2 separate regions of the Homo sapiens genome follow, and region 1 is linked to region 2. Evidence: fine-mapped expression QTL. A gene starts in region 2. The other region holds a variant in brackets. All regions are shown on one strand. Distances are between the middles of the regions. Region 1 overlaps LOC105375416 (a long non-coding RNA gene). Region 2 holds the start of SDHAF3 (succinate dehydrogenase complex assembly factor 3).

Region 1 (5,383 bases), 350 kb after region 2:
AGTGAATAAGTCTCACGAGATCTGATGGTTTTACAAGGGGTTTCCCTTTTCGATTGTCTCTCATTCTGTCTTGCTTGCCGTTATGTAAGACATACCTTTTGCCTTCCACCATGATTGTGAGGCCTTCTCAGCCACGTGGAACTGTGAGTCCATTAGCCCTCTATCTTTATAAATTACCCAGTCTTGGTTATGTCTTTATTAGCAGTGTGAAAATAGACTAACATAAGCCCTTTCCCAAAACAAACCTCCTTCTTGTCTGGGGACTAGACTGCCTTTGTAGGACTAACAAGTTAGCCAAAGATTAGAAATTATGGTTTAGGAGTCATGTGGCTGAAGGCTACAAGATTCTGATCCTCCCTAAACTGCTTCTAAGATCAGTGCTTGAGATATTTTGCAGATCCTGAGCTTGATGGATCAGCTGGCACCACTCAGATGGAAAAAACTGGCTCATCTGATCTTGTGACCCCACCCAGGAACTGACTCAGCACAAGAGGACAGCTTTGACTTTCCATGATTTCATCTGCTACCTAACCAATCAGTACTCCTGGCTCACGGCTTCCCCCAACCCACCAAATTGTCCTTAAAAACTCTGATCTCTGGATGCTCAGGGAGACTGATTTCAGTAATAATAAAACATCGGTCTCCTGCACAGCCTGCTCTGTGTGAATTACTCTTTCTCTATTACAATTCCCCTGTCTTGATAAATCAGCTTTGTCTAGGCAGCAGGCAAGGTGAACCCACTGGGCGGTTACACTCCCACCAGGCCCACCCTCAACACTGGGGACTACAATTGAACATGAGATTTGATTGGGAACACAGATCCAAACCGTATCACACATTACACTGTAAACCTATGGTTTATGTACTTTTCTTTATGTTGCAAAATAAAATGTTTTCTTACACTCATGAGGCAATTGGAACACTGATATTTGATGATACCTAGGAATTGCCAGGGTTTTTTTGTTGATGGTATTGGAGTTTTGTCATAAAAAAGTCTTATGGTTCAGAAAGACACACAACTTTATCTAGGTAAAATGTGATGCTCGAGGTTTGCTTTAAAAAGTAAGGGAGGTGGCCAGGCGCAGTGGCTCACCGCTATAATCCCAGCACTTTGGGAGGCTGAGGTGGGTGGATCACAAGGTCAGGAGATCAAGACCATCCTGGCTAACACAGTGAAACCCCGTCTCTACTAAAAATACAAAAAATTTGGCCGGGCATGGTGGCAGGCAACTGTAGTCCCAGCTACTCTGAGGCTGAGGCAGGAGAATGGCGTGAACCCGGGAAGTGGAGCTTGCAGTGAGCTGAGATTGCGCCACTGCACTCCAGCCTGAGCAACGGAGTGAGACTCTGTCTGGAAAAAAAAAAAGTAAGGGAGGTGAGGGGAATAAGTTAGAGTTTAGATTGGCCATGTAATTGATAATTGTTGAAGCCAGGTGATAGTTACATGGGGGTACATTAAGCTATTGTCTAGTATATAGTTGAAAATTTTTCTTAAAAAAGTAATTGTAGAATCCCCAATAGACACCTCTCTTTGCCCACTTCTGTTATAACCCACTGGATTCTTGTCACCCACTGCACAAATAAGGCCAACACAGTGAGACAGAAGTGTTGCAGCAGAGAAAGAGTTTATGGTAAGGCAATTGAGCAGAAGGATGAGAGATATGTCTCAAATCAACCTCCCTAAGAATTTGGAGGCTAGGGTTTTTAAAGATAATTTGGTGGGTAAGGAGCTAGAGAATGGTGCTGCTGATTGGTTGGGAATGAAATCATAGGAGTATTGAAATTGTCTTTGTGTGCTGAGTCAGTTCCTAGGTGGGGGTCATTGGTTCAGGTGGTGTCAGTTGTTCCACCACAATGCAAAGTCTGAAAAAAATATTTCCAACACCAGTCTGACATTTTAAAATAGTGTTGTCTATAGGACCAATTAGAGAACTTACAAATCTTGTGACTCCTGAGCATCAAGCAATTTAGGAGACAATAACTAGTTATCATTTAACTATGCATAGGTCTTAGCAGAATTCAGGTCTTTACCATAATTCTAACCTTGTGGCCTTTTATTAGTTTTACAAAGGCGATTTCAGTCCCTGAACAAGTAGGGGGTTAGTTGGAGGAAGGAACTATTATCATCTTTATTTTAAAGTCAAACTGTAAAGTAAACGGCTCTCATACTTAGTTTCACCTACACCCAGGAATGAGCAAAGATAGTTTGTGAGGTTAGAAGCAAGATGGAGTCAGCTACATTAGTTTTCTCTCTCTGTCATAACTTTTACAAAGGCAGTTTCAATTATTTCTCTCTGCACTTCCTTTGGACTTTCACTTCTCTCCCGTCTTTCACCACTGCTCCCTCTCACGGGATCTACTCCTCTCAGTACAACTTTTTTTTTTTTTTTTTTTTTTCTTGAGATGGAGTCTCGCTCTGTCACCAGGCTTGAGTACAGTGGCGTGATCTCGGCTCACTGCAACCTCTGCCTCCTGGGTTCAAGTGATTCTCCTGCCTCAGCCTCCTGAGTAGCTGAGACCACAGGTGCATGCCACCACACCCAGCTAATTTTTGTATTTTTAGTAGAGACAGGGTTTCACCATGTTGGCCAGGATGTTTTTGATCTCTTGATCTTGTGATCTGCCTGCCTCGGCCTCCCAAAGTGCTAGGATTACAAGCGTGAGCTACTGCTCCCCGCCTCAGTACAACTTTTAATCTGTTTTCTTTCATAT[G/A]CAGTGAGCTCAGCTAAACTGTCTTAGTATGAGAACCAGCACATCCTACCGACCCTGAGGCCTCAGCCTCTAATCAAATGGGTTTACAAAAACAATCAACAAAGATGGGTCTTTTCCAGGAAAACGGAGGAATCCTATTCTAACTGCCATGAAAAACAATTTTCTGTATTCATTCATTCATTCATTCATCCCCTACCCACAATATGCATAGGTAGGGTTTATCTCTTAATAAATTTGAGAAGTATTGTTAATAGAATCAGGAACATAGTTGTTAACCTTTCCCCAGGGTGGGCTACTTCTACTGATCACTAATATAAACCATCATCACGATCCTTACAAGCTTTGCTGTCAGAAAGCGATCTTCTCTCAAATTGGTTCATCTTTTTGATATCCCTCAATCCCTTCCACACCAGCTATAGTTGTTGAATTTTCCTTTAACTGGGACATTTTGAGTTTGTCAGAGGAGGAAGGGAGAAAAAGCATTTAAGAATAGTCTACTGACTGAATGGGAATTACTGCAAAGAGCTGATGAGGTGAGAATGCCAACAAGCGGGTTTAAGACCAAAACATTCACCCAAGTGAGATTACATTTGTTTTCTGGAAATAGGGGTGGTACAGGATAATTAACTTGACTTGGTCTTGAAACACATTTTCAGCCTAGAAGAAGCACACAAATCGTACTTGACTTAGGAATTAAACAGATGTGATGTGGAGAAAATTAAAACATTTTATCAACCTCTGTGAAACTCACAACTCAGATTGTATGAGCCTAAGCTATAAAACATTGTATCTCATCATCTCAGCTTAGGGGTTTCTGCTCTAGTGTCCCACTGACAGCATGCCCTCAGTAGTAGGGGCCTTCTACTTTTTTGTTTTTGTTTTGTTTTTTGAGACAGAGTCTCAGTCTGTCGCCCAGGCTGCAGTGCAGTGGCGTGATCTCGGCTCACTGCTACCTCTGCCTCCCGGGTTCAAGCGATTCTTCCATCTCAGCCTCCCAAGTAGCTGGGACTAGAGACATGTGCCACCATGCCCGGCTGCTTTTTGTATTTTATTTATTTATTTATTTGAGATGGAGTCTCACTCTGTCCCCCAAAGCTGGAGTGCAGTGGCATGATCTCAGCTCACTGCAGCCTCTGTCTCCCGGGTTCAAGCAATTCTCCTGCCTCAGCCTCTCAAGTAGCTGGGGTTACGGGTGTCCACCATCAGGCCTGGCTAATTTTTTTGTATTTTTAGTAGAGATGCGGCTTCGCCATGTTGGCCGGGCTAGTTTCGAACTCCTGACCTCAGGTGACCCACCTGCCTTGGCCTCCCAAAATGTTGGGATTACAGGCGTGAGCCACCACGCCCGACAGCCTTCCAGTTTTATCATGTCCATTGGAAGGTCTGTAGCCTGCCTCTGTCACTTACTTACACTTCTGCTGTTTCTCCTACCCTACAGATCACCTTTAGTTACAAGGACTCTCAATGACTTTCCTGAGCACATATCGCCACAGCTATCTCCTATTACTGCTCCGAGGCCCTCCCCTAAGACTGTATAGCATAGTCAAAAACAACCAAAGAGCACCTTCCTAATATTCAGGCATGGCATCAGTTTAAGTAATGGCAGAATTCTTTGGAGAAATTCAATGTATCTTAAATGCCCAGAGCATTCATTTGACTCTAGACAATCTGGACAGAAATAATTGTGAAGCAGGTAAATTTTCCTGAGAGTTCAGTACAGGGACTGATAGAGAAGGATATTCTCCAGATTATTGAATATCATAGCTTTGCACTGCTTACAATGAAGCTCTCACACAAAGGCCACTGATGGAGAATAATCAGATGGAGAATAATCCTACTGTGCTATTGATACAACTTATAGCAGCACAGGTGTTTGGAGGACACCTGAGCATATTCATGCCACCTTGAATCAATAGGCAAAGAGATTTCCTCTTTAAGGTGAGACAGTTCTAATCTGGTGGTCATCAGCAACTGTGCTTTGAGATACTTTGAGCTTCCATGTGTAAGAAAGGAAGTGACAGGCTCAAAGCAACAGTTTTAAAGACCCTTGAGAAAGAGTAAGGGCTTAGTCTGCAGCCACCCAGTGGGTGCGATTACCCACGCAGTTCTGTGTAGCTCCTGACGAGTACATGCTATAGTTTCATGTAAGAGGCAGTATGGATATAGTGTTCAGAGCATGGGCTTTTGGTCAGATTACTAGAGTCTGTCAAACCTGCTTTATTTATAAGACAGATGATAACAGTGCCTGTGGCGTTGGCTTTTGTGATATTAAAATGATTTAGTATGTGTAAGCCCTTAGAACAGGGCTTCCTGCCCCATTGTCAGCATTCAGTAAATGTTAGCTATTTTGAATTGAGGGGTGTGGAGTAAACACACAAGAACAACGATGATTTTGGAATGGTGTTTAAAAGAAATTTACAGAAAGATTCCAGAGAAATGTGGTAAAAAATTAGCCTTTAATTTCTGGGTTAGAACTCATTTTAATAAAACAGTATGTCTCAAATGACTGAAGAAAGAATTGTATGGCATCATAGAAAGAACATAAGACTTGGAGGAAAGACGTGGAGGGTTAAGTCCTAAGTTGTCACCAGCGCTGTGGCCTGGGATCCTGCAACTCATCCCTTTGGGCTTATAAGGAAAGTTAATCTCTGTGGGTTGCTTCTAGCTTAAA
Region 2 (5,383 bases):
ATTTTGGAGGGAATCTGAGAGAAGTCATGGTTAGAGATTAGTAAAGTTGGAAAGTACTGCAAATTACCTAACCCAGCTCATTTACAAGTGAGAAAATCTGGGCACAGAGCGGTTAAATCACTTGCAGAGTAACATATAAGAAAAAGAAACACATGAAGGAAGGATAAAGGAAAGGTCTGCATGAAGTGTAGTGATCTAGATTGGTGGCCAGAAATATAAGTGTGATTTTATTTTCAGTTCATGGCTATTTTTACCACAAGAGGAACACTGATCAGCCTAAATTGGTCAGGGAAACAGAGAAAAGTTTTGTCCTCAAAACATAGCTCACTGTCCAGCTTGTTGTAAAAAAAATAAAATAAAGGTTAACTGTCATTATTCTCACTGTTATTGCTTTATTCCACTTCTCAAGGCCTAACCACACCACTATGTCTTGGCTTCTCTTTCACCCATCGTCTGCCATTTTGAGCATTGATTCTCCAATGCTTTGTGGACCCTTTCTACTCTCTTTAGGCTCAATTAATTCCTTTATTTTTTAATTAATTCATTGGCAGAATGTTTTCTCACATTTTTATAAGAGTGTTGGCTCTTGAAAGAGGTATTTATTACACATGTTCTTTAACTCCAAAGGAAACCAGAAAAAAACAAACGGGGACAAGAAATCAATTTTCAATTTTACAGGGATATTAACAGATGAAGTATGGTTAGAAAAAAATTTCCTGAAGCAAAATAACCACGCTGCCATTCAATCCTTGCCATTAATGCAGTTTGTCATAATACCAAATTAAATCCATTTTTAAAAAGTTCTGTGTTTTTTAAAACACATATTTTCCCTAAATTTAAGCAAAAGGAGAAGCTCTATTCAAAGCAATAAATTCTACTTACTATTTGTATGGCACTGTGGTGGGCCCTGAAAAGGATACTAAAATGAGTAAGTACCTGCCTTCAGTAGCTGAGTGTGTCTTGTTTTTCTTTCAGAAAGTTTTTGCACAGAAAGAAGTCTGGGGTCTGTGAGACAATCACACAAATTTCAACATTTCTGCCTCTTCTTCACCAGCAGGAATATGAGGCATCTGACACCGTTAGTGAGTTTCACACATTAATTCAACAGATATTTATTGAGTGCTTACTACAGACCTAGTGCAGGTCACTAACAAATCACAAAATCCCTGCCCCTATAGAATTTGTACTCTAGTTGGGGGATAATAAATGGAGAATAAGCACATGAGTAAATTATGTAAGTAATATAGAGAGAAACAAAGCAGAGGAGGAGCATAAGAAATTCTTGGTTTGGTGAGGTTGCAACTTCAAGCAGGGTTTCAAATAGGGTTGCCAGGGAGGGTCTCATTAGAAGGGGACCTGAAGTATGCGCTGAGTGAAATAAAAGTGTTAGCCAGGAAGATACATTTGGCAAAGCACTCCAAGTAGACGGGACAGCAAGTGCCAAGGCCTCAGTTGGGAGTGTACCTGGCTTTTTAAAATATGAACTAAGAGCTAGGAGGCCAGTGTGGCTGCAACTGGCTAACTAGGGAGAAAGCAATAGGAGAAAATTTAAACCTTTAAGGGCTAGAGACTGGGCTTTACTCTGATGAAAATCCCTGGAGGCTTTTGTTGAGCAGAGGAGTGAAATGATCCGATTTACAGTTTAGATTGTTAAAAGAAAAACTTTAAACAAGTTAAATCTAATAAAGTTTATTTGCACGAGCGCACGTGCACACACACACACGATTTATGAGGCATTCATCAGGCAGCAGCACTTAACAGGGAGAGGTTCAGAGAGCTCTACCCAGCACTGTGGGCAGGCAGTATTTATAGACAGAAAAAGGAAGTGCCCCACAGAAACAGCTTGATTGCTTACAGTTGGGCTAGTCTTATTTGGGCAGGACATTATGACGTATTTGCCTTATATGCACATAGTCTGATCAGTTGGCAGCCTGTGATTGGCTGAAGCTCAGCTACTTGTCACAAGAATATACTCTCAGTTGCAGTTAATTTACATACTAAGTTAGGTTGCAGTTCCCTACATAGCAACTCAGAGTAGGGAGGAAATTTTAGGCCAAATTTAATTTAAATTATGTTGGAGCATGACCAAAGTTGGTCATGACCAGAAGCTGAACACAGATATGGAAGCTAACACAATATCCAGTGGAGAGAGATTGTGGTAGAGTACATGGGGCGAAATGGTTGATTTCTGCATTTTTGTTGGTGACGCCATCAGGATTTGCTGAAGAACCAAACGTGTGACAGGAAAGGACAACACAAGGAGCTGCCAGCTTTGGAAACCAGTTCTACTCTCAGTATTACCTTCGCAAAAGATAGAGCTTTGTAAATTTCTAGATTCCTCGTTCTTATTATCCTAGACTATTTAACCAGAATCTCCAGGGTCGTGGTCCTGGAAACAATACGTTTAAAACTCTTCCCAAGGATCCTTCAGCAGCCAACTTGACTTTGGCTAAGGAGTCCGCCAGCTCTGGGCTCACTTGGGTTGTTTGCAAGGAAGAGCCCATGCCCAGAGTATAAATTGGGAGAACAGCGCTGTGCAAAGAGCGTGGGTTGGTGAGCTAGTGGATGGCGAGATTAATCTCACTCTGATCCCTAAAGCAGGGTGCAGTAATACTCTAAATGCCTCAAATGGGTTGGGAACCATGGAAGGAATCCCGGAGGAGCCCGATCTTAACGAAGCTTTTCTCAGGCCTTTGGTAGGAGGACAGAAACGAAGTTGAATGAAAAAGACAGTGGAGTGGGACTGAGAAATGACAACGGCCCACCACAGACCTCTCTCTTTCAAGGCCTGTGTCGTCAGGACGCAGGCCAGAAGAAGCCACGACGAGGCGCAGGCGCGACTCCACGAGGGCCACGCCCCTCCTAGAGAAGGACCGACCCGTTTTCCGCCCGCAGCGGAGCTTGGGTTTCCGGGAGGACCTGATTGTGCAAGGGACCAAACCGGATAGAGGTCGCGCGCCCTCTTTCGTCTGCCTTCCGGTTCACTAATACGCAAGTTCGCAGAAGTGCGGGAACGCGCCGTCCCTCTGCGCAGGCGCAGTCGGCGGTCGGCGTGGGGCGCTATGCCGGGGCGGCACGTTTCTCGAGTCCGGGCATTGTACAAGCGCGTCTTGCAGCTGCACCGTGTTCTGCCCCCGGACCTCAAATCCCTGGGCGACCAGTACGTGAAAGACGAATTTAGGAGACATAAGACCGTTGGTTCTGACGAGGCACAGCGTTTCTTGCAAGAATGGGAGGCAAGTGACGCTCCCTTCTCTTTGCCCAAGACCTTTGGGGTTCCTCGGTGTCCAGGTTTCTAGTTCCAGTCCCCCATGCGGGGTTAAACAGAGCAGCAACCTGTTCTGTTTGAAATAGCGTAATGCTGTTCAGGTAACACTTTCCAAAGTTTCTCCCACGGGTTTCTCACTAGAGCAGATCCTGTTACTTCAGCGTCCCCAATTCAGTTCAACTTTTGAGCTCCTGCAGATGCCAGGTGCTCAAAGGGTGAGGGTAGGAGGTCACAAAAATGAGCAAGTCGTCGTTAAGTGCTCAAAAACCTCAGGAGCTTTTTGTCCTTTTAAGTGCCTTTGCACCTAGTAAGCGCCCATTAATAAATTAATGGTTCTCTTATTAGTTTTCAAATTTAAAGGCTTATTTCCGTAATTTATTATTTAATCTCAGCGCTTTTGGTTGGGTTTAAATAATTTTCTCACTTGGCTGATACAGAAATCAGGTAACATGAAAAAGATTACAAAAGGTTGGAGATTACAAACTGTGAAGGAGAAAAATGCTGGTGGCAGTTAAGTCAGGCGAAAGTTGTTTCCTCCGGTCTCAAGTCATTGTTACTTCGCCCTGCACCATTGCGCTAAATATTAAACAGACACATGCATTAGCAATAAGTCGTTTGACTTTTTTTTTTTTTTTTTGAGTAAAGGAAAAAAGATATTCAGAGTATTTCGTGGGGCTCGGGGCCCTGCAGGATTGCCCCTAGTTTTCATTTGCAAATATAAATAAATGAATGGAATTAGAGATTGGAATGACAGCTCAGATATTTGAAAGCATGAGTTGGAGCTGATATGAAAATAGAGGTAAGCGGTTCTTCGGCCTAAATAGTTGAAGGGGAGATGACTGAAGTCGGCTTTGTAAAAAAAAATCAAAAGAATGGTTAGGGTGAACACAAACTTTGCACTGACTTCCAGAATTCTTTTTTGTATAATTATTGAAGCTTTTAAGAGCGACATTTAGAACAATCGGGAAATTTAGAACTTTCTTGAAAATCATGGTGTATTTGATGTAATTCGCTTGCCTGAAGCAGGGAAGTTGAAGCTTTTCAGACACAGAGCACTTTATTTTAATAAGGTAATTTGGTTTTGGAGCCTGAAGAACTGGATTCAGATTCAGTCTCTGACATTTTAAGTGTCAGATCACATAATTTTTCTAGTCTTATTTTCTCATCTATAAAATAATAAGTGTTTATGCATCTCAAAATTTACGTATGTAAATGTATTTACAAGCACTTGTGTATTGCTAATTGTTATGAAGCTATAAGATACTGTATTAAAGTATTTTACATCTTTTATGGTAGGTCATTTTGTGGCCGTACAGGAAGGAGAGTAGCTCTCTGTTGGGAGGAAATAAGGTTATTTTAAGAAGTCTTAAAATGTAAGCACATGGAAGCCTCTTTGGGAAAAAGTAGGAAAGAGTAGCAACTCAGAAAAAATTGATAATAGGTTGTAGGAGAGAGAGAGGGTATAAAAAAGAACTGCATAAATAAAAAATGTGTTAGTTGACCTAGTAGGCTTGGTAACTGGGATTGAGCTTTTTAAAACTTGGAATAATTTTAGACATACAGAAGAGTTAGAAAGACAGTAGAGAGTTCCCTACATCCTGTTTCCCCCTGTGTTAGCATCTTACATAATCAGGGTACAGTGATCAAAAACAAGAAATTAACATTGCTACAATGCTGTTAACTACAGACTTTATTTACAATTTGCCAGCCCTTTCACTAATGTCCTTATTCTGTTCCAGGATCCAATGGGGATTCTACAATGCATTTAGTTATTCTTTTTCCTTAATCTCCATTCTGTGACAGTTGCTCCGTCTTCCTATCTTTCATTACCTTGATACTTTTTTGAAAAGTACTAGTCTGTTACTTTGTGGAATGTATCTCAATTTGAGTTTGTCTGATGTTTTCTCATGGTTAAATTGATGTTATGCATTTCATAACATCTCAGTAAGAATACCACATGGGCAAAGTGTTCGCCTCAACACTTAATGTCAGAGGGCACATGATACTAACATGACTTCTTACTGGTGATGATAACTGTGATCACTTGGTTAAAGTAATAATCCACGTGGTGTCTCTACTGTAAACTTACTATTTTCTCTTTTGAAATTAATACAT

Evidence for each region. PIP is the estimated chance that this variant, and not a neighbour inherited with it, causes the effect. A credible set is the group of variants that fine-mapping cannot tell apart.
Region 1: its variant is the best candidate, but not a certain one, in a credible set for the expression of SDHAF3 in memory regulatory T cells (Schmiedel 2018, PIP 0.55).

Annotation. Positions count from the first base shown.
Region 1 is chr7:97,460,198-97,465,580 of GRCh38, forward strand. The region is part of intron 2 of LOC105375416 (a long non-coding RNA gene); the gene reads right to left. Among named protein-coding and RNA genes, the nearest start is that of TAC1, 270 kb to the right of the region's middle. The variant G/A (reference allele first, on the strand shown) is at 2,713.
Region 2 is chr7:97,114,662-97,120,044 of GRCh38, forward strand. SDHAF3 (succinate dehydrogenase complex assembly factor 3) reads left to right here and starts at 3,037. Exons shown (of 2, transcript NM_020186.3): 1 at 3,037-3,236. The coding sequence starts at 3,063. RefSeq lists enhancers at 2,695-2,774, 3,125-3,214.